3 separate regions of the Homo sapiens genome follow, and regions 2 and 3 are each linked to region 1. Evidence: fine-mapped QTL for protein levels in blood plasma. A gene starts in region 1. Each other region holds a variant in brackets. All regions are shown on one strand. Distances are between the middles of the regions.

What was found. PIP is the chance, under the fine-mapping model, that this variant and not a neighbour inherited with it causes the effect. Protein levels are from antibody-based Olink assays in UK Biobank. Linkage for the fine-mapping came from a reference panel and not from the study's own genotypes, which makes the PIPs less certain.
Region 2: its variant is fine-mapped to the plasma level of the FABP3 protein (UK Biobank, PIP above 0.99).
Region 3: its variant is fine-mapped to the plasma level of the FABP3 protein (UK Biobank, PIP above 0.99).

The regions. Positions count from the first base shown.
Region 1 is chr1:31,369,502-31,377,662 of GRCh38, reverse strand. FABP3 (fatty acid binding protein 3) reads left to right here and starts at 4,587. Exons shown (of 4, transcript NM_004102.5): 1 at 4,587-4,721; 2 at 8,106-8,161. The coding sequence starts at 4,649. LOC124903892 (a long non-coding RNA gene) reads right to left here and starts at 3,364. Exons shown (of 2, transcript XR_007065573.1): 1 at 3,276-3,364; 2 at 176-851. RefSeq lists silencers at 567-861, 4,107-4,401.
Region 2 is chr1:31,401,128-31,409,308 of GRCh38, reverse strand. No RefSeq gene overlaps it. Among named protein-coding and RNA genes, the nearest start is that of SERINC2, 8.0 kb to the left of the region's middle. The variant G/A (reference allele first, on the strand shown) is at 5,105.
Region 3 is chr1:31,489,354-31,497,511 of GRCh38, reverse strand. No RefSeq gene overlaps it. Among named protein-coding and RNA genes, the nearest start is that of LINC01226, 25 kb to the left of the region's middle. The variant A/G (reference allele first, on the strand shown) is at 4,273.

The DNA.
Region 1 (8,161 bases):
CTGAAGATGTCAGAGGCATTCTAACCAGAGTGACTCCATCTTGAATAGAGGCTGGATAAAATGAAGCTGAGACCTGGCTGGGATGCATTCCCACAAGGTGAAACATTCTTAGTCACAAAATGTTTACAGTTAAGAGTTAAGGGAACAGGTTAATAATTTACTAAACAGACATTTCTTTACTTCTCTAATAAACTTGCTTTTACTTTATTCTGCGGATTTGCCCCGAATTCTTTCTTGTGTGAGATGCAAGAACTCTCTCTTGGGGTCTGGATTGGGACCCCTTTCTGGTAACAAAGACCCCATGGACCAAGGGCATAAAAAGAAGGGATGTCTAAGACTTGCTGGTTCTATGGCAGGCAGAGGCAGAAAGAGCCCCACCATCATTCCCAGCAAATGGGAAAAGTTCCCAGTTGCAGATATTAGGGGTGGGATGGGGCGGGGGTAGTCAGCAACCATAGACTTAGACCCTGAAGAGGCAAAAAAGGAGGGCCATGTTCTTGGGTCAGCAGAGCTTCTACTCAGCTTCTTCAGCCTCTAGCTCTTTCCTGGTGCTAGTAGCACATTCTCTAGTGGAGGCATCCAGATGGCAGGGAGGGTCCAGGAAACAGCTGAACATGCTGAGCAGGCCTCCCTTGTCCCCGCTCCCCATGGCCCCATGGATCATCCGGTGCTGCAGCTCATCTCATTGGCTGGCTTCTGGTTACTCATCTCTCCTCTTCTCCATCTTCCCAGCCTGTGGTTGCCGTGGAAACATAGAACAGTGACCTCACCATAGGATGAGGGCTGGGGAGATGCTGTTCTTGGCAGGCGCTGGTCTTGCTGCCTGCCAGATGTTATATCCACATCTGGATCTGCCAAGGGCAAGACAGAGGAGTACAAAAAGGGACAGGGCTCACATTCTTCCCCAAATGTAGTCAGCATAACAGAGGAAGAGGATGCAGGTAGATCAGAGGGATGAGGAGAGAACTGTACATACTTAGAAGGGAGAAGGGTGTAAACCAGGAGGAAAGGAGATGGGGTGTGGCTTATGGGTTAACCTCGGTGACCCAGGTCTGAGCACCATGGCGAGGTGAGGGAAGGGCAGTGAGGGTAGTTGGTCTGAGGTTTGTCGAGTAGAGCTCCTCAAAGCCCCGTGCTGCTCAATTTGGACAGGCCCAAGAGAGGGAGCAAATGGATTTTCTGGCAGTGACCCCACCCCAACCCATTCTGAAAAACCTCTATAGCCCCTTTTTCAGTTGAAGCCCTTTCTAATCCTGTCCCAGAAATAATAAAACTGAGGATTAAAGAAGCAAAGCAATCTGCCTCAGGTAACTAACTCAGTAGGTAGTGGCAGAGCTCAGACTAGGTCTTAGGTGTCTGCACTATCCCTGGAGACAATAACAATAGCAGCAGGAGGAGCAGCAGCAGTGAACTTTCGTAAGTCAACCATGCTTAGCATTTAAATGTATTATCTCGGGCCAGGTGTCGTGGCTCACACCTGTAGTCTCAGCACTTTGGAAGCCGAGGCAAGCAGATTGCTTGAGGCCAGGAGTCCAACACCAGCCTGGGCAACACGGCAAAACCCTGTCTCTACCAAAAAAATGCACAAAAAATTAGCCAGGCGTGGTGCCATGCGCCTGTAGTCCTAACTACTCAGGAGGCTGAGGTGGGAGGATCCCTTGAGTCTGGGAGGTCAAGAATGCCATGAGCTGAGATCATGCCACTGCACTCCAGCCTGAGTGACAGAGTGAGACTCTCTCCAAATAAATAAATAGGCCAGGCGTGGTGGCTCATGCCTGTAATCCCAGCACTTTGGGAGGCCAAGGCAGGCGGATCACTTGAGGTCAGGAGTTCAAGGCCAGCCTGGCCAATATGGTGAAACCCCGTCTCTACTAAAAATATAAAAATTAGCCTGGCGCGGTGGCCCGCGCCTATAGTCCCAGCTACTTGGGAGGCTGAGGCAGGAGAATCACTTGAACCTGGGAGGCTGAGGCAGGAGAATCACTTGAACCTGGGAGGCAGAGGTTGCAGTGAGCTGAGATAACACCATTGCACTCCAGCCTGGGTGACAGAGTGCAAGACTCCATCTCCAAAAAAAAATCCCTTCATTTTAAAGATGAAACTGAAGCTGGCGTGGTGGCTCATGCCTGTAATCCCAGAACTTTAGGAGGTCCAGGTGGGCAGATCACCTGAGGTCAGGAGTTTAAGACCAGCCTGGCCAACATGGCGAAACCCCGTCTCTACTAAAAATACAAAAATTATCCAGATGTGGTGGCAGTTGCCTGTAATCCCAGCTACTTGGGAGGCTGAGGCAGGAGAATTGCTTGAACCCAGGAGGTGGAGGTTGCAGTGAGCCAAGATCACACCACTGCACTTCAGCCTGGGCAACGAGACTCCTTCTCAAAAAAAAAAAAAAAAAAATGGAGACTCAGAATGGCTTAAGTGAATTGCCCAAGGCCACACAGCTAGTACCCAACAAAATTCAGATCAGAACGCAGATCTGCCAGCAGCCATTAGCCCAGCCCCAGCTCTCCATCATTGCATTACAAGGGCCACATAAGGAGTCAGTTCTAGTTCCTGGCCACACAGTCCTTGAGAGGAGGCCCTATGTGTGAGGGCTGCGACCTTGAGTCAGAAATCATCTTTTCCCCCTCCTCCTCTCCTGGCACCTGTTCCAACAGTGAGATCACCAAGGCTCCATGCCCAGCCCTGAAGCCTGTCCCTATAGCTTTGGCAGAAATGAGCCTCTGAGTCTTCTGGCAACTGGACCGTCCAAAGGAATCAAGATCTTAGGGTGGGGAGAGGGCTCTTCCTCCCTGGCCTTGTTCTCAGAACAGTCCAGGGAAGGGAGGCAGGGTTTGCACATGGAGAAACAGAGTCCCAGGAAGGAGGGCCTGCCATACTCTACGCACGTGGCAGGCCTCTGGGCTCCTGTGTTGGCTCCTGCAGGCCCACCCTGGACAGGCTGCTGCTGGCTGAAATTCAGTTCGGCACTACTCCTTGGTGTGCAGGGCCTCCTGCCATCCCTCAGAAATTCATTTATACCTCACTTCCTTTGAGAAGTCTACATTGGGCCCTCAGGTCAGGACAGGACAGGACTCCCTTTAGAGGCACCACGCTAGTTTTATGTCTGGCTGCCCAGAGGTGAATGTGTGTCTTGTTCCCTGTTGTCTCTCTCCAAAGCAGGGCCTGGCACAAAGTAGGTGCTTTATTAACTGCTGAATTAATGAGTGAGCTCCTCAGAGCTTCAACTTGTTCACCTTTTTAAAAAGAGAAAATAATACAGTAACACCTACTTCATGGATTTTGCTTTAAAAGTCCAATGAGGCCAGGTGTGGTGGCGTGTGCCTATAGTCCCAGCTGCTGGGGAGGCTAAGGTAGGAGGATCCCCTGAGCCCCGGAGTTTGAGGCTGCAGTGAGCTATGATGGCGTCACAGTACTCCAGCCTGGGAGACACAGCGAGAGACTTTGTCTCTAAAAAATAATAATAAAATAAAAAGTTCAATGAAACAATACACCCAAAGCCCTCAGCATGCAATAAATAGCAAGACAAGGCAGGTCTTATTTTTACTGAAAGTGCTTAGTAAACTATACAGTGACAAACCACCGCACAACAGGCTCTCGAAAGGAGGCAGCAAATTACCCAAAAGTGCAGGCGGCTTGCTAGTGTGCACAGGCCAAAGAAAGGGCGGCAGGTGGGGAAGGCAGCCATGGGCCTTGAAGAGCTGACCGAATTGGCAGAATTTCTGCAGGAGGGGAGCTGGGAACGACCTGAGCTAAAGCTCGGAGCTGTGCGAAGAAACCGGAAAAGCCCAGAGCACTTGCAGGGGCGGGTGGGGAGCTAGATGGTGGGGTGGGGTGGGGACGGAGGAGGGCCAGCAGGAGACATTCCGCAGGGAGGGGCAAGCACGTGTGAGGCGGGCGGGGCGCGAAGGGTCAGGCTTTTGCTCAAAACAGGCAGAGGACAAGGTCAGCTCAGCCGCAGACCGAGCCGCTGGTGACTGTCTCCGCCACCAGGCAGTGAGAGTGAAGGGAGAGCGCGAGCTCTGAAGCCCGCTAGACTAAGCTTGCAATCTGAGCTCCATTCACCCCCTCCTATTTCTTGAGACCTTGTCAGTTCCCCTGTGAGCCTCGGACTCCTCACTTGTAAAACGAGGACAGATGCCCGTGCCAGAAGTCAACCAGAGCTTTCCCCGGCGTGGGCACCAGCCCAAGGGCGTTTTGCTTTTCTAGTCTCATCTCTGCTCTGACGCTAAGCTCAAAGAGGGACTGGGGGACGGGAAGATATCCACCATGGCATGCGCCCTAGCTCTCGGGCTGGTGTTGGCTGCTTCCTTCTCAGATTCCAGAGTGCCTAGAGGCCAGGAAAGGGAGAAGGTCCTACCAGCCTGGGGTAGGGACTCGGGGGCCAGGCACTGGCGCTGACGCAGGCTAGCAGGGCGCCACTGGCTGGTCCCCACCCACCTCGGTGGGTTGGGGGATGGGCGCACCAGCCCCTCCTGGGTGAGCCCTAGCCTGGGGCTTCCTATTTCGGGAGCCGGGGGCGTGGGCCACGTCTCCTCATGTGATGCGAGGGCTATTTAAAGCGGCAGCCCGGGCAGGGAGCCGCCGTCGGAGCCCTTGCACGCCTGCTCTCTTGTAGCTTCTCTCAGCCTAGCCCAGCATCACTATGGTGGACGCTTTCCTGGGCACCTGGAAGCTAGTGGACAGCAAGAATTTCGATGACTACATGAAGTCACTCGGTGAGCAAGCCGCGGGGCTCAGGATGTTGGCTTGGGGACTGGCTGGTGGCGTGCCTAGCCCCACGCAGCACTCCTGCCGCATCCCTCCTGGTTAAGACTGGGGAATAGGGGAGCGCGGAGATGGCAGCCTGGCCTAGAGCAGGTGGGGCCTGTTCAGAGGGGGCTTTGGTGGTCCAAATCTGGTTAGAGACCACGGTAGGGAGGTGGTGGAAGGAGGCAGCTGTGTGGGAGGCTCTTTCCAGGAAGAGGGATATGTGATTTGGAGGTAGGAGGAGGGTTTGGATAAAGAACACTGATCACAGGAAAGGGAGTGTAGCCAGGGGAGAAAAAGAACAGGGGCATGGGTAGTTTAGAAATTGGAGGAGACTGAACCCAGAAAGGGAATGGGGCAGCCAGGGAGTGTACAATGATGTAAACAAGTAGGAAATACCTAGGAGGAAAAAGATTAGTGGGGAAAAAACTGTGGATCAGTGAATCAGATATGAGAAGGACGTAAGACAGGAACCTGCAGTAAGCAGCAATCCCCATCTCTGCTTGGTTAGGGAAGAGAATTCTTGCTGGAGAATGCCCTTTCTCACCAGCCAGTCTGACCTTGTCCTGCAGTCTATGTATCCAGGCCTTCATCACTGTCTGTGAGCCTCGTGGTAGGGTGGGGCAAGAGGCCCATGATCAGCTGGGCCTTTCCTGCAACCCAAGGCTCACCTATCTGTGCGAGGGGTAGGCAGAGAAAGCCATTGGACTTCTGATGTGCAGTAGAGGGTCCCAAGGCAAGGTCAAGACCTGGGAGGGAGGATCACTGGTTTAGGAGGATGTGGAGAACTGCTGTGGTGTTGGGATGGAGAAGAATCAGGATTCAAAGAATCTCACAGGTGAGGAACTTGGAGATTCCCATACCATCTAGTTCAACAGGGAAACTGAAACCAGGAGAGTAGAAATGTATTATAACAATTCCACAGCAGAGCCAATATGAAAATCTAAGGTTTCTAGATCTGTAACCCAGAGCTCTTCCCACTACCCTACAGGCCCTGCGAGTGGGAAGAAAAGTAGAAACTGCTTAGCTAATGATTGACCTCAGCCCTTCTTCTACTGCTTTGGGCTTAGATGGAGAGGTCAAAGCTCTCAACGGCCTCTACCCTATCTTGGGCGCTATGCCCAGTAATTCTAGGCAGGCAGTCATTCTTAGAGGAGCAGCCCCCAGCCCCCACGAACACAGCCCAGCAGCTATTGGGAAGTTGGAATGCCCAGATTTAGTTCCTCCTTCCAAAGCTGGGCCAGAGCTGAGTCTTGAATTGAGCTGCAACAACTTTACCATTCTTGTTCCCTTATTCTGCCCCGAGTTGGGTCAGCGGGCTGGTCTCCCTGAAGTCCTGTTATCTTTCAGCAGCTTATGTTAAGGCAGCCAGCATTCTCATCGTAGGAATGGAAAGCCTGGGAAAATACCCTCCTCAGCTCTCAGTAAGTAGTGCTGGCTTCATTTCTAAGTAGAACCCAGATCTCCCTGAGTCTCCTAAATTCTGTCAGCTCAATATTCTTAGTTTCTCTTGGTTCAGACCCTCACTCATCCCGCAGTGGTTTCCTTTTCAAACACTCCATACCTCTGGGTAGATCCTAAGTGAACAGAGCTCCCAGTGCCGTGACAAGGTCCTGCTCTGTGCAAGGGAGTGTGATTGGCCTGACTCATCCTGATACCAAGGGGCAATGCCAAGTTCCTCACTGGCCAAGCAAGGGTGGGCTGACAGCATAACAGCAGAGGCAGCCCCTGCCCCTCCTGCTGTAGACCTAGGGCTCTCAAGGGGCAAAGAGGTCCCGTCTAGTACCAGTGACCACAGGCACAACTGCTGGCCTGGATTGAGTATGTGCTGGACAGAATCGCCCAGTGAAAATAGTCAACAGTTTTGGAGCCGAGGTTCAAATCTATGTCAGTAGTTTATTCTCTTTGAATTTCGACAAGACACTTCGCACTCTTCATTGTAAACTGGGGATAATCTACGCTTCGAGGCTGTTACAAGCATTAAGTAAAACAACCCATGTAGGGCATGTGCAGAGTACCTAGCTTCCAGCAAGCACTATGTAGCCAGGTACATTTGGAGACTTTACACACACCACCTCACTACACTGGGCTGCCTCCTGCCTCACCTTTGCCTTGGAAGACAGTTCAATGTTAAGCTGCTGGGGGGAGAGGGGGCAGTCATGATTAGTTCTTTGTTCTTTACTTGGTTGCAGGACACTTAGGACTTTGCCCAGTACCCAAGGAAGCCATGCTTGGGTCAGGAAGAGAGTCTCTGTAAAGCCTTAGACTGGGAGTCAGGAGACGGGTTTGAGTCTAACTCATTGTTGCTACCGCTTTAGGCTCCTCCTGAATCTGCACAATAGGACAAATACTTCCTTTGTACCTAACTCCTAGATCATAGATAACAGGCTTTGAAAATGATGGGTTGCCATGTATAAGGGACAAGAGCACTAACACTTCTTAGTTTCAGGGTAAAAACTTCCAAAGTTGGAAAACTCCTATGCCTAAGGCTTTGGAAGGGAAAGTCTATGTTTCTCTTCTTTCCTCAGCCTTATTCCTAAGGCTTTGAGAGCTTTTCAGGTGCCCTGGAAGGCAGCCTTATGCTCCAGCCTTGGGAGGTAGTATAGCTGAGCACTTAAGCAAGCTCTGGACTCAGACAATTCTGGGCTTCAATCTCAGATTTGTGACCCTGGGCTTTACCTCTGTTTTTGTATCTGTAACGTGGAAACAGTCTTCAGAAGAACAGGAAGAACTAAATGAGATAACATGTACAGTTCTTACTACACAAAAAGCTCATAGTACTTAATAGTAGCTTTTTTTTTTTTTTTGAGGTGGAATCTCACTCTGTTGGCTAGGCTGGAGTGCAGTGGCACAATCTCGACTCACTGCAACCTCCACCTCCTAGGTTCAAGCAATTCTCAGCCTCAGCCTCCTGAGTAGCTGGGATTACAGGCACATACCACCACATCTGGCTAATTTTTTGTATTTTTAGTAGAGACGGGTTTCACCATATTGGCCAGGCTGGTCTTAAACTCCTGGCCTCATGTGATCCGCCTGCCTTGGCCTCCCAAAGTGTGATTACAGGCGTGAGCCACCACACTTGGCCCAATAGTAGCTTATTCTAATCCCAGCTCTGCCACTGACTTGCTATGGCACTGCTGTTCCTTAAGTATCTCTCATCTAATGGGATCAGTTATCTGTGTTCACCAAACAGAACTAAGCGCAAGACTGAATTTTAAAATTCCCATGCAAAGGCTTTGAAAGATACAGTCCTCCACTTCCCCATACCCAGGCCTGAGAGTTATTCATTGAGTTTCTTGTACACTGCTTCTCTACCCCAGCTCATATACTCATAACCTTCCCCCTACCCTCAGGTGTGGGTTTTGCTACCAGGCAGGTGGCCAGCATGACCAAGCCTACCACAATCATC
Region 2 (8,181 bases), 32 kb before region 1:
CCTGCGCCCAGATGTTCAGGGCCAAGCCAGGAGCCCTGAGCAGTCATGGGGCCACATCTGGATCTCACATGTCAGCAGATGAGCCCACAGTGGTATTAGGTGATTTTGTGAAAGGACCCAGGTCCTGGAAGGGACTCTATCTGGAAAGTATGGAGACAGGCAGACACGATGCGTGTTCATATGTGTGCAGGCACACAGTGATGCAAGCTTGAGCATGCACACACACACAGGGTGTTCTGTGTGCATGGACGTAACTGTGTGGGGTGGAGGTACCCCTGTGGCTGCCCAGTGTATGTGCCTCTGTGCTGCTCTGGTGACTTTTTTCCAATCAACACTTAGCCACAGGGGGCCAGGAGCTGGGAATGCAGTGTGGATAGGGCAGACACAGTCCCAGCCTGCATGGAGTGGATGGTCTGTGGGATTTGCTTCCCATAACAGTAACACTCTGGAAGGAATCCGTTTCCTTTGTAGGAAGTGACTAGGGGTTGAGAGAGAAGATGGGTAAGAGTGGAAAAGGTAGGACATCTGAGGTAGGTAGCTCAAGGGAGCCTCTGGCACTTGCCAGAAATGTATGGAGGAGACAGCCAGGACCTGGCACCGGCTCCACGACAGTCACAGGTCTGAGGATTCCCAAAGGTCTCCAGATGCTTTCCTTACAGATGTCCAGGGTCTTCTGTGAGTGTATATGTGGGCAGTTTGTGTGTGTTGGGGAGGGGGGGGTGTTTAGGTATATGTGCACAGATGAGCGTGTGTGGTTATGTGAATATGTGCATGGAATGTGCATGTATAAATGTGGGGACATGGGTAAGTCATATATGGTGTGTACGCAGGTGGGGTTTACATGTAGAGGTGGGGGTATGCTTGTGTGTGTGGCAGGGCCTGTTACTGCAAAGGAGAGAAGAGAGTGCCATTTGGCCCAGGCCTCACATTCAGAAGTCTCAAAAATGCATCCAAAAATGAGATGGAATGAAGGGAGGGAGGGAGGGATGGATGGCTAGGTAGATGGATAGGCAGAGGGCTGTCTGTGCAGAGAGATGGACAGAGGGTTGGACAGAGGAATGGATATGTGATAAAGCAGATACTGCAAAATGTTCATTGTAGTCCCCAGGTGCTGAGTATGTGGGTGCTCACTGTACCATTCTTTCAACCCTTCTGGATGCTTGATACTTTTCATAATACAACGAGTACACAAAGTGGGCTGGATGTCTAGCCCCAGAGAATTATGGATGAGATGGGAAGAACAGAATGCTCTTCATGCCATTTGAAACTTACATCCCATCACTGGACCACACAGCAATGTGAAATCACATTTTTTATAATTCTTGTGACGATCTTGTGAGTCTCTCAGTTGCACTGCATTGGATGTGTGTGGGTGCATGTGTGTGTTAAAAAACATTAATTTGTTAAATAAAAACATACCACAGTTGTGAACATCCTATTTAGGACTTTCTTCATTTTTAAATTAGCAGGAGCCTTAAAAGACAGAAGTGGTCTGGCTCAGCCGGGCGCGGTGGCTCGCGCCTGTAATCCCAACACTTTGGGAGGCCAAGGCGGGCGGATCACCTGAGGTCGGGAGTTTGAGACCAGCCTGACCAACATGGAGAAACCCCACCTCTACTAAAAAATACAAAATTAGCCGGGTATGGTGGCGCATGCCTGTAATCCCAGCTACTTGGGAGGCCGAGGCAGGAGAATCGCTTGAACCCGGGAGGTGGAGGTTGCAGTGAGCTGAGATCAGACCATTGCACTCCAGCCTGGGCAACAAGAACGAAACTCCGTCTCAAAAAAAAAAAAAAGAAGTGGCCTGGCTCTTTCCGTCTGTGAGCCCCTACTATGCAGGGTGCGTGTATGGGTTTGCATGTATGTGCACGTGTCAGGGATGTGAGCACACGTGGGTGGGTCAGGCTGACACCCATGTGAGTGCCCACACAGAGAGCTCAGCCTCCTCCAAGCCCCGCTGAGGCCAGCACCACTCTGAGGTGAGGAGGATGTCTTAGGATCGAGGAAGGGCAGCCACCAGCCCCAGGGCAGCATAAGGGACCAGGAACTCTGTCACCTGAGGCTTGGACACGCTCAGGCCAAGCGGCGTCATCCGGCCAGCAGCGAGAGTGTGGGAGGCTGTTTCCTGGAGGAGGATGGGGCAAAGGCAGGATGTCCACAGCCCTCCTGGGCCCAGCGGCTCCTTTCTTCCTCCCCATACATTTATATCTCCTGTCGGGACCATTCATCCTCCCCTGCTCAGTGCCTGTGGGCCCAAGTGGTCAATACCCCATCGTTGGACAGATGGAGAAATGGAGGCCTGGAGAGAATGCAGCCACTCAGGCCACACAACAAGTCAGCCCAGAGCCAGCCTGAGATCCAGCCTGGGTTCTAATCTCTGCCCCTACTGCCTGCCAGCCCTGCATCTCCCTCCTTCAGTCATTTGTCCACCAGCCAAGGCCTGCAGGGGTCCTACAGAATGGGCTCCAGGCCCAGCAGACCCAGCAGGGGAGGCCCCAGAGTGCCCTCCTGCCTAGGGAGGTCACATACAAAATCCAGGAAGACAGGTGGGCACCAGAAACAGCAGGTGGCTGAGAGGCAGGGCCTGGCTCAGCCACCAACCCTGTTAGAATGACCCTAGACAGCTCTCTGCCCCTTTCTGGGCCTGTTTCTCTATCTGTAAAATAAATGGGTTGAGGCCAGGAGCAGTGGCTCTCACCTGAAATCCCAGCACTTTGGGAGGCCTAGGTAGGCAGATCGCTTGAGCTCAGGAGTTCGACACCAGCCTGGGCAACATGGCAAGACCCCCATCTCTACTAAAAATACAAATAGCCAGGCATGGTGGTGCACACCTGTGGTCTCGGCTACTCGGGAGGCTGAGGTGGGAGGATCACTTGAGCCTGGGGAGTAAAGGTTGCAGTGAGCCAAGATTGCACCACTGCACTCCAGCCTGGGCATACAGTGAGACCCTATCTCAAAAAAAAAAAAAATACATAAATTAAAATAAATAGGTTGAACTATTAACAGTGGCTTTCAAATAATGTTTTGAAGCAGAATCCCTAAGTAGCTACAAGAGGAGCTCTCCTGGCCCATGTGGGGAAGGCAGGTGGATCTTGGCCCCTCACCCACTCTCCACTAAGAAGCTGGCCAAAGAATGTCCCACCGAGTCACAGAAGCAGTGGACAAGAAACCAGCCTTCAGCACATAACCAGGGCCCAATTCCAGCTGGGCCATTTACCAACTGCATAGACCTAGGCAAGGCTCTCCAAGCCTCAGCTTGCTCATCTGTAAAATGGGGGCAACGATACCAACCTCCTACAGCTGTGTGACAATTAACTGAGATAATTCATGCCCAGTGTTTGGTATGCGGTGAACATATTAAAACTTGAAGCAACAGTGACTGTTACTACTAGTTAGCCCTCAGATGAGAACCGGCATGAACTTGCTGGCTTCACCATGAGTTGTATCTCTTGTGCCAGATCCCAAAGCCAGTGCATTTTGGCAGCTGCTATCCCAAATTCCTCAGCTCCACCTACCTCTGCAGCTGCTCCAGAACAGCTGGGCATGCAGGGGCTGCTGCAAGGCCAGGCCTGGGCCCTGGGGAGGGCAAGCGCAGGGCTCCCTGTAATCAGGCCAGGCCTCAGAGCAAGGCCCGTTTCATCTGGACAACCAAGTCCCTGGCAGGCCATCATTAACTCCCCCACCCTTGCTCAGCACCCAACCCTGACCCAGCTGCTGAAGCCTCAGAGAGAAGGCAGCAGGTGTTTAGCCAAAGCCTTTCATTCCTCGGATCCCTCCCCAGGGTCTCCCAGGACCTCTGGGCTCAGGGAAGGTTCTGGTGACATAAGCAGGAAGGAAAGTCTTTCTGAAGCCAGGGCCTCCACTCACCCTACAGGCAGCAGTCCACACTGAGGAACAACGGAGACCTGGCATTGAGACTCCTACAACCTCAAAGTTGAAGAAAGCTCTAAAGCCATCTCATGTATATATATACAATACAATACCATTCAGCCTTAAAAAGACAAGAAATTCTGACACATGCTGCAACATGGCTGAACTTTGAGGATGTTATGCTAAGTAAATAAGCCAGACACAAAAGGACAAAAACTGTATGATTTCACTTACACAAGGTACCCAGAGTACTCTAATTTGTAGAGACAGAAAGTACAATGGTAGTTGCCAGGGGCTGGGAAGAGAGCAGAATGGAGAGTTATTAAAAAACACAAGATGGGCCGGGTACAGTGGCTCATGCCTGTAATCCCAGCTACTCAGGAGGCTGAGGCAGGAGAATTGCTTGAACCCGAGAGGCAGAGGTTGCAGTGAATTGAGATCTCGCCATTGCACTCCAGCCTGGGCAACAAGAGTGAAACTCCGTCTCAACAACAACAAAAAAAGATGAAAGACAAGTGTTGGCTGGGTGCAGTGGCTCATGCCTGTAACCCCAGCACTTTGGGAGGCTGAGGCAAGAGGACTGCTTGAGCCCAGGAGTTCAAGACCAGCCTGGACAACATGGCGAGGCCTCCATTTCTACAAAACATTTAAATCTTTTTTTTTTTTTTTTTTTTTTGAGATGGAGTTTCGCTCTTGTCGCCCAGGCTGGAGTGCAATGGCACGATCGCGGCTCACTGCAACCTCCACCTCCCAGGTTCAAGCGATTCTCCTGCCTCAGCTTCCTGAGTAGCTGGGATTACAAGCACCCGCCATCATGCCCGGTCAATTTTTGTATTTTTAGTAGAGACAGGGTTTCACCATGTTGGCCAGGCTGGTCTCGAACTCCTGACCTGAGGTGATCTGCCCGCCTCAGCCTCCCAAAATGCTGGGATTACAGGCATGAGCGACCACACCCAGCCTCATAAAAAGTAATTTTTTTACTTTTTGTAAGTGTTTATACTTTTTACAAGTATTGGTGAGGATGTAGAGAAAAGAGAACACTTGTACACTTCTGGTGGGAATGTAAACTGGTACAACCATTATGGAAAACAATATGGAGGTTCCTGAAAAACTAAAAATAGAACTACCACACGATCCAGCAATCCCACTTTTGGTTATATATCCAAAAGAAATGAAATCAGTAAGTCAGAGAGATATCTACACTCCCATGTTCACTGCAGTATTATTCACAATA[G/A]CCAAGATATGGAAACAACCTAACTGTCCATCACGGAATGAATGGATAAAGAAATTGTGATGGCCAGGCACAGTGGCTTACGCCTGTAATCCCAGCACTCTGGGAGGCCAAGGCAGGTGGATCACCTCAGATCAGGAGTTCGAGACCAGCCTGGCCAACGTGGTGAAACGCTCTCTCTACTAAAAACACAAAAATTAGCCAGGCATGGCGGCGGGTGTCTGTAATCCCAGCTACTTGGGAGGCTGAGACAGAAGGACTGCTTTAATCTGGGAAGTGGAGGTTGCAGTGAGCCAAGACTGCACCATTGCACTCTAGCCTGGGGAACAAGAGCAAAACTCTATCTCAAACAAACAACAACACAAAAAAATTGTGATATATACACAATAGAATACTATACAGCCTTTAAAAAGAAGGACATCCTGTCATTTGCAACAACGTAGATGAACCTAGAGAACATTACGTTAACTGAAGTAAGCCAGGCACAGAAAGATTAACACTGCATGATCTCACTTATGTGAAATTTTAAGTCGGACTCATAGAAGCAGAGAGCACAACAGTGGTTAACAGGGGCTGGGGCCAGGCCCAGGAGAAGGGATTGAGGAGATGTTGGTCAACGGATACAAAATTTCAGTTAGACAGGAGGAATAAATTCAAGAGATTTATTGTACAACACAGTCACTATAGTTATTAACAATGTATTGTATACTTCAAAATCGCTAAGTAAATTTTAACTGTTCTCATTGCAAAAAAATTAGTATGTGAGGTAATGCATACTTAGCCCAATTAGCCATTCCACAATGTATACATATTTATTTATTTATTTATTTTTTATTTTTTGACAGGGTCTTACTCTGTCACCCAGGCTAGAGTGCAGTGGTGTGATCCCAGCTCACTTCAACCTCCACCTCCCGGGCTCAAGCCATCCTCCCACCTCAGCCTCCCGAGTAGCTGGGACTACAGGTGTGCAACACCACATCCAGATAATTTTTGTATTTTTTGTAGACAGAGGGTCGCATCATGTTGCCCATGCTGGTCTCGAACTCCTGGGCTTATGTGATCTGCCCACCTCAGCCTCACAAAGTGCTGGGATTACAGGCATGCACCGCCGTGCCTGGCCAATATATACATATTTCAAAACATTATATTGCACACTATAAATGTATAAATTTGTATTTGTCAATTAAATTTTTTAAGTTCTCTGATTTGAATAATAGAGAGATAAACACACACATCTAGTGCCTTCTCTCAGTTAACAGATGGAGAAACTGAGGCCAAGACCGAAGAAGGGACTTACCAGAGTACACACAATGGGTGTGGGTTGAGAGGCATTCTCTGGCTTCCTGCTTCTTTCTAAACAAGCCCTCACCCCCACTCCCGAGTCTGCCCTACTGCTGGAACAGCCCCCTAACTACAAGCTTCCAGCTGGTTCTTCAGCACATCCGGAATTTCATCAGTCTTTAAAAAAAATAACTTTGCTCCTTTACTCTGGGTTTCATTCCCTCCAATTATAAAATCCTACCTGTCCCACGATAGCAGGGATCTTATCTGCCTGGTTCACCACAGGATCTCAACTCCCAGAGTTACATCTGGCAGGGCATCGCAGAGGCTGAATAAAAAATGAAAAATGAATTTTAGGCCAGGTGCGGTGGCTCATGCCTGTAATCCCAGCAGTTTGGGAGGCTGAGGTGGGTGAATCACTTGAGGTCAGGAGTTCCAGACCAGCCTGGCCAACATGGTGAAACCCTGCCTCTACTAAAAATGGAAAAATTAGCCGGGCATGGTGGCGCACACCTATAATCCCAGCTCCTTGGGAAGCTGAGGTGAGAGAATCACTTGAACCCAGGAGGCGGAGGTTGCAGTGATCTGAGATCATGCCATTGCACTCCAGCCTGGGCAACAAAGCGAGACTGCATCTCAAAAAAAAAAAAAAAAAAAAAAAAGAAGAATTTAAAAATTCAAAAGAATTCACCAATGGATTCCCACCTTCGACATACTTTATGTCCCATTCTCATCTATTCTAATGCTTAAACGCTTTTTTAAAATTAATTAAAAAAAATTTTTGAGACAGAATCTTGCTCTGTCACCCAGGCCAGAGTACAGTGATGTGATCTAGGCTCACTGCAACCTCCGCCTCCCGGGGTTCAAGCGATTCTCCTGCCTCAGCCGCCTGAGTAGCTGGGATTACAGGCATGCACCACCACCTCAAGCTACTTTTTGTATTTTTAGTAGAGACAGGGGTTTCACCATGTTGGAAAGGCTGGTGTTGAACTCCTGACCTCAAGTGATCCACCCACCTCGGCCTCCTAACATGCCGGGATTACAGGTGAGAGCCACCATGGCTGACCACTTAAACACTGTTAAACAATCTGGACTCACACTACCTACATAATTTTGTGTCCCATCTTTTTCACATAACATTCCATCATGAGCATTTTTCCTTGCCATTAAAATATTTTCTTAACAGCACTGAGATGGCCCCATACTCGCTGTCAGTGGATGTCCTCCACCCAGAAGCCATCTTCTCAGCCAGACTTCTGGGACCACTCAGGATGGGGCAAAAGAGAACAATGTATTGCTGGCTTCCAGCACACAGTCCCCCTCAACAAACATCTACAGAACATCTGAGGTGCCAGGCACAATTCTAGGCCCTGGGAGGACAGCAGTGAATCAAACAGACAAAAGCCCTTGCTTTCATAGAGCTTGCACTCTAATGGGGAGTAAATGAATGAATGAACCAATGAAACTACTTCCTGTGGTTGGACATTGAAGTCAGTGCTTCTTAAACGTTCCCTCTGCAGTAGCACTAGTGAACTGCAAGCAGAAAATCCCTTTAAAGTCTTATATGTTATTATTAATATGAATGTAAAGTCTGCATTCTATGTGGGCTGGCCAACTCATCCTGCTTTGCCTGGGACCTTTCTGGTTTGCGTACTGAAAGTCTCATGTCCTGGAAAAACTTTTTTTTTGAAACAAAGTTTCATTCTTGTTGCGCAGCCTGGGAGGCAGTACCTGCAGTGAGCCGAGATCGCGCCATTGCACTCCAGCCTGGGCTCACTGCAACCTCTGCCTCCCAGGTT
Region 3 (8,158 bases), 120 kb before region 1:
AATCCAGCATATAAACAGAACCAAAGACAAAAACCACATGATTATCTCAATAGATGCAGAAAAGGCCTTTGACAAAATTCAACAGCCTTTCATGCTAAAAACTCTCAATAAATTAGGTATTGATGGGACATATCTCAAAATAATAAGAGCTATTTATGACAAACCCACAGCCAATATCATACTGAATGGGCAAAAACTGGAAGCACTCCCTTTGAAAACTGGCACAAGACAGGGACGCCCTCTCTCACCACTCTTATTCAACATAGTGTTGGAAGTTCTGGCCAGGGCAATCGGGCAGGAGGAAGAAATAAAGGGTATTCATTAGGAAAAGAGGGAGTCAAATTGTCCCTGTTTGCACATGACATGATTGTATATTTAGAAAACTCCATCGTCTCAGCCCAAAATCTCCTTAAGCTGATAAGCAACTTCAGCAAAGTCTCAGGATACAAAATCAATGTGCAAAAATCACAAGCATTCTTATACACCAATAACAGACAAACAGAGAGCCAAATCATGAGTGAACTCCCATTTACAATTGCTTCAAAGAGAATAAAATACCTTGGAATCCAACTTACAAGGGATGTGAAGGACCTCTTCAAGGAGAACTACAAACAACTGCTCAATGAAATAAAAGAGGATACAAACAAATGGAAGAACATTCCATGTTCATGGATAGGAAAAATCAATATCGTGAAAATGGCCATACTGCCCAAGGTAATTTATAGATTCAATGCCATCCCCATCAAGCTACCAATGACTTTCTTCACAGAATTGGAAAAAACTACTTTAAAGTTCACATGGAACCAAAAAAGAGCCTGCATTGCCAAGACAATCCTAAGCCAAAAGAACAAAGCTGGAGGCATCACGCTACCTGACTTCAAACTATACTACAAGGCTACAGTAACCAAAATAGCATGGTACTGGTACCAAAACAGAGATATAGACCAATGGAACAGAACAGAGTCCTCAGAAATAATACCACACATCTACAACCATCTGATCTTTGACAAACCTGACAAAAACAAGAAATGGGGAAAGGATTTCCTATTTAATAAATGGTGCTGGGAAAACTGGCTAGCCATATGTAGAAAGCTGAAACTGGATCCCTTCCTTACACCTTATACTAAAATTAATTCAAGATGGATTAAAGACTTAAATGTTAGACCTAAAACCATAAAAACCCTAGAAGAAAACCTAGGCAATACCATTCAGGACATAGGCATGGGCAAGGACTTCATGTCTAAAACACCAAAAGCAATGGCAACAAAAGCCAAAATTGACAAATGGGATCTAATTAAACTAAAGAGCTTCTACACAGCAAAAGAAACTACCATCAGAATGAACAGGCAACCTACAGAATGGGAGAAAATTTTTGCAATCTACTCGTCTGAAAAAGGGCTAATATCCAGAATCTACAAAGAACTCGAACAAATTTACAAGAAAAAAACAAACAACCCCATCAACAAGTGGGCAAAGGATATGAACAGATACTTCTCAAAAGAAGACATTTATGCAGGCAACAGACACATGAAAAAATGCTCATCATCACTGGCCATCAGAGAAATGCAAATCAAAACCACAATGAGATACCATCTCACACCAGTTAGAATGGTGATCATTAAAAAGTCAGGAAACAACAGGTGCTGGAGAGGATGTGGAGAAATAGGAACACTTTTACACTGTTGGGGGGACTGTAAACTAGTTCAACCATTGTAGAAGACAGTGTGGCAATTCCTCAAGGATCTAGAACTAGAAATATGGTTTGACCCAGCCATCCCATTACTGGGTATATACCCAAAGTATTATAAATCATGCTGCTATAAAGACACATGCACACGTATGTTTATTGTGGCACTATTCACAACAGCAAAGACTTGGAACCAACCTAAATGTCCATCAATGATAGACTGGATTAAGAAAATGTGGCACATATACACCATGGAATACTATGCAGCCATAAAAAAGGATGAGTTCATGTCCTTTGTAGGGACATGGATGAAGCTGGAAACCATCATTCTCAGCAAACTATTGCAAAGACGAAAAACCAAGCACCGCATGTTCTCACTCATAGGTGGGAATTGAACAATGAGAGCACTTGGACACAGGGTGGGGAACATCACACACCGGAGCCTGTTGTGTGGTGGGCGGAGTGGGGAGGGATAGCATTAGGAGATATACCTAATGTAAATGACGAGTTAATGGGTGCAGCACACCAACATGGCACATGTATGCATATGTAACAAACCTGCACGTTATGCACATGTACCCTAGAACTTAAAGTATAATAATAAAAAAATTAAATTAAAAAAACCAAAACACAACAAAACAAAAAACAGATTGCACAATCTCTGCATCCATCCAGGGGGGTCCAGGATCACCAGTTATTCTCTTATTAAAAAAGTTAAATATATATATAAAATATATAATATATACATGTATTATATATAATATATATAAAATATATTATATATACATGTATTATATATAATATATATAAAATATATTATATATACATGTATTATATATAATATATATAAAATATATATATTATATATAATATATATAAAATATATATATTATATATATTATATAATATATATAATATATATTATATATAATATATATAATATATATATAATATATATATTATATATAATATATATAATATATATAATATATATATTATATATAATATATATAATATATATATTATATATATATAATATATATATTATATATATATATATATTTTTTGAGACAGAGTCTCACTCAGTCTCCCAGGCTGGAGTGCAATGGCATGATCTCGGCTCACTGCAATCTCTGCCTCTTGAGTTCAAGCGATTCTCCTGTCTCAGCCTCCTGAGTACCTGGGATTACAGGGACCCGCCACCACATCCATCTAATTTTTTGTATTTTAGTAGAGACAGGGTTTCACCATGTTGCCCAGGCTGATCTCGAACTCCTGAGCTCAGACAATCCACCTGCCTTGGTCTCCCAAAGTGCTAGGATTCCAGGCCTCCCAAAGTGCTGGGATTTAAAAAATCAGCCAGGTGCAGTGGCACATGCCTGTAATCCCAGCACCTTGGGAGGCCGAGGAGGGCAGATCACTTGAGGCCAGGAGTTTGAGACCAACCTGGCCAACATGGCAAAATCCTGTCTCTACTAAAAATACAAAAAAATTAGCCAGGCGTGGTGGCGCACACCTGTAGTCCCAGCTACTTGAGGAGCTAAGGCAGGAGAATCGCTTGAACCCAGGGAACAGAGGTTGCAGTGAGCAGAGATCATGCCACTGCACTCCAGCCTGGGTGACAGAGCAAGACTCCATCTCAAAAAAAAAAAAAAAAAGAGAGAGAGAATTGACTAAAGTATCTTTAAAAGAATTACTTTCTAAGCTTGGATGTGACACAAGAGATCACACTTGTGAAAGATCATCAGGTTTGGTGGCACCTGATTTATAATTTGTGTATATTCATAAATATAAAACTCAGCTCTTCCTGGGAGTTAGGACACCTGGGGATTAACTAAAAGGATATTGTGGCCTGAATAAGCCACTCAGGTTTCAGTTCCCTTGACTATAAAACCTTAATAAGTTATTTAATGCAGAGATTGTGTTCTTCTTCTGAATCCCAGCTTCTAATAAAATTATGTCACCTTTCCTGATCCTCCATTTCCTCATCTGAAAAATGGAATTAATATGTTAGTGTTTGATACCAGCATTGTTTTGAGGATTAAATGAGATAATCTAAGTAAAGATCTTAGTTTAAACCGTGTTAATTGAAATCCCTGGGGTTAGAGGACTGTTCCTGGCCTCATCTGCCTGATACACATGTTAGCAGAAAGTTCTTAGCAAATGGCTCTGACAGCTCTATCTTTCTCAGAGGGCTGTGACCGGCTTGTGCAGAGCTCTGGTGGGTAAATAGTTTTCAGCTCATTCTGCCTGATTATATCCTCATTTCTTCTGGAACATCACTACAAACAAAGCAACAAGTTTGATCCTATGAACTAAGCATGGAGTTGGAATTCAAGGGTGACTAGCCAACAATGGGGGTTAGACCCTTTAGGCCCTGGGATGGCCATGTGAATAAAGTAAAAAATACTTCAGTTTTTCTTTAACTATGCTATTAAAGGTCTTCTTTATGTGCAATATCTGAAGCTTCACCTTAAGGGAGATATTTCACAAAAATAAGATGCCAATGTTATTTTGCCTTAAATGTATAAAAACTATCATCTGTTTTGTAGCAAGGATCAGAAGAAAAATAAACCAGGTCCAAC[A/G]TTTCTATGACTCCCATGTTGGATTAATGAATATGGAATCTTTATAAATTATGCATTGCATAATTTCACTATTTCTTATCATCCTCATAACAATCCCATGAAGCACTAATCATCATCTCCATTTTACAGATGAAAAATCAGAGGCTTACAGATGTTTAAAATGAAGAATTTCCATGGTTGTCAGTAAGTGGCAGAGCCAGGATTCAAACATGGGTCTGTCTGATTCCAGACCCCAGGCTTCTTCCACCAGTGCTTAACTCATTGAATAGTATTCACAACTGTTGGGAACAGGCCCCCCAAAATCTGGCCATAAACTGGCCCCAAAACTGGCCATGAACAAAATCTCTGCAGCACTGTGACTTGTTCATGATGGCCATGATGCCCACGCTGGAAGGTTGTGGGTTTACCAGAATGAGGGCAAGGAACACCTGGCCCACCCAGGGTGGAAAACTGCTTAAAGGCATTCTTAAACCACAAACAATTGCATGAGCGATCTGTGCCTTAAGGACATGCTCCTGCTGCAGATAACTAGCCCAACCCATCCCTTTATTTCGGCCCATTCCTTTGTTTCCCATAAGGGATACTTTTAGTTAATCTAATATCTATAGAAACAATGCTAATGACTGGCTTGCTGTTAATGAATACGTGGGTAAATCTCTGTTCGAGGCTCTCAGCTCTGAAGGCTGTGAGACCCCTGATTTCCCACTTCACACCTCTATATTTCTGTGTGTGTGTCTTTAATTCCTCTAGAGCCACTGGGTTAGGGTCTCCCCGACCGAACTGGTCTCAGCACACAACAACATTGAGAAGTGACTATTATTATGCCTGTTTAAGAGAGGCATCTGTAAGGTCAGAGAGGGGTAAGACCTCATCCAAATCAAATTACTACCAGAACTGACAAAAGTCATCTCAAAGGTGACCTTAGATCTGGGTCTGATGCAGGCCAAACCTAACAGTCAATCTCAAGAGAACAGATGGCATCTGTCCCTGCCAGTCTACCCTTCCTATCATATACCCACCACTTACTGCATCCCTCTCTGTTCCAAACCTCTGCAATCATGCGTCCTTCTTTCAGAAACCCTTTCCCTCCAGCCTAGCCAGCTGCTATTCTCTCCAGTTTTCAATTCAAATGGCACTATGTGCTCGTCATGAGTGCTGCCCATTAGCCGTTTCCAAGTCTCCTCTTGATCACGGGGTAAAATTATACTTCCCCACTGAGGCCATCAGTGTAAGTTAAGTTATACTGCAGTAACAAACTATCCCCAAATCATAGGAGCTTATAACTACAAAGACTTCTTTCTCACTCATGCAGTGTTCCCATGTGGATCAGTTTTGCTCTGTTCCATCATCTCCAGGACTCAGGCTAAGGGAGCAGTCAGTCCCTCATGGCACATTTCTACTTGAAGACCAGTAGCCAAAGCAAGTCATGTGGCTAGGCCAGATGTTAATGAGGAAAGAATTATAATCCTTCCACAGGTGGGGACAGCAAACATTCTGGCAATAATAAGGTCTATTATATTCCTCCCCCTTGAAATGGGATATGGCCACGTGGCTTGCTTTGGCTAATGAAATGTGAGTAAAGTGATGTTACCGCCAGTAGGAAGCTTTAAGAGCCAGTGTTAATTCACCATGCGCTCTGTCCCTTTGCAGAAGCAGTCAGCAGCCAGTGGTTACTCTATCAGCCCAGTTCCTAGGGTGGGGACAGCAGAGAGCAGGGCCCCCAGCTCTCTCCCTTCATAGGGATATAGTTTGAGGCAATCACAACCTTATTAGTTTAAGTACTGAAATGTGAGGGTTGTTTGTTACTGCAGCATCAGTTAACCCATTCAGCTCAATACATGCCTCCTTTGGAAAAGTTCACTTTACTTACAGGGAACAGTGGGAGGTGATCAGAACTAGACCCAGTAGCCAGGTGTGGTAGCACACACCTGTAATCCCAGCTACTCTGGAGGATGAGGCAGGAGAATCGCTTGAACCTGGGAGGTGGAGATTGCAGTGAGCCAAGATCACACCACCAAACTCCAGCCTGGGAAACAGAGCGAGACTCCATCTCAAAATAAATAAATAAAATAACTGGACCCAGGCATTGGTCAGTCAGGAAGCTTCCTGGAGCACTGAGTTTTAAGGAGGATTAAAATATCATAGGATGGGGAAAATCTTCAGGATATTATTATGGCCAAAATTTCTTGAGCAATACCCCACAAGCACAGGCAACCAAAGCAAAAATGGGCAAATGGGATAACAAGTTAAAAAGCTTCTGCACAGCAAAGGATACAATCAGCAAAGTGAAGAGACAACCCACAGAATGGGAAAAAATATTTGCAAACTATCCATCTGACAAGAGATTCATAACCAGAATATATAAGGATCTCAAACAACTCTATAGGAAAAAAAATCAAATAATCCAGTCAAAAAGAGCAAAAGATCTGAATAGACATTTCTCAGAAGATGACATACAAATGACAAACAGACATATGAAAAGGTGCTCAACGTCTTTAGTCATCAGAGAAATGCAAATCAAAACTACAATGAGATATCCTCTCACCCCAGTTAAAATGGCTTATATCCAAAAGACAGGCAATAACAAATGCTGACAAGGATGTAGAGAAAAGAGAACCCTGGTACACTGTTGGTGGGAATGTAAATTAGTGCAACTACTATGAAGAACAGTTTGGAGGTTCCTCAAAAAACTAAAAATCGAGCTATCACATGATCCAGCAATCCCACTGCAGGATATATACCCAAAAGAAAGGAAATCAGTATATGGTAGAGATATCTGCACTCCCATGTTTATTGCAGCATTGTTCACAACAGCCAAGATTTGGAAACAACCTAAGTGTCCATCAACAGATGAAAGGAAAAAGAAAATGTGGTACATATGCCCAATGGAGTACTATTCAGCTGTAAAAAAGAATGAGATCCTGTCATTTGCAACAACATAGATGGAACTGAAGATCATTATGTTAAGTGAAATAAGCTAGGCACAGAAAGACAAACTCCTCATGTTCTCACTTATTTGTGAGATCTAAACAAAAATCAAAAACAATTGAACTCACGGACATAGAGAGTAAAAGGATGGTTACCAGAGGCTGACAAGGGTAATGGAGGGCTGGTGGGGGAGGTGGGTATGGTTGATGAGTGTAAAAAAATAGTTAGACAAACAACCCCATCAAAAAGTGGGCAAAGGATATGAACAGACACTTCTCAAAAGAAGACATCTATTGGCCAAGAAACATGAAAAAAAGCTCAACATCATTGATCATTAGAGAAATGCAAATCAAAACCACAATGAGATACCATCTCACACCAGTCAGAATGGCAATTATTAAAAAGTCAAGAAACAACAGATGCTAGTGAGGCTGTGGAGAAATAGGAATGCTTGTACACTGTTGGTAGGAATGTAAGTTAGTTCAACCATTGCGGGAGATGAATGAGGAGCAAAGTCACGTCTTACATGGCAGCAGGCAAGAGAGCATGTGCAGGGGAACTCCCCTTTATGAAACCATCAGATCTCACGAGACTTATTTACTATCATGAGAACAGCATAGGAAAGACCTACCCCCATGATTCAATTACCTCCCACTGGATCCCTTCCATGACACATGGGAATTATGGGATCTACAATTCAAGATGACATTTGGGTGGGGACACAGCCAAACCATATCACAAAGGAAACATTGAAAAGTCACTTGGAGGCAGAGTGGGTCCCTTGAGGGCCTACTTGAGTGATGGCAATGCAGGCTTTCACTCTACTAAATGGGATGTGCAAGGGTGGGAAGGAGCTGGACTATTCTGAACAGGTGAGGAAGGGCTTCCAGGAACCCCAGAGAAGGCAGAGAACAAGAGCACCTAGTGTCACAAATAGTCTCCATGCACTAGATATGTA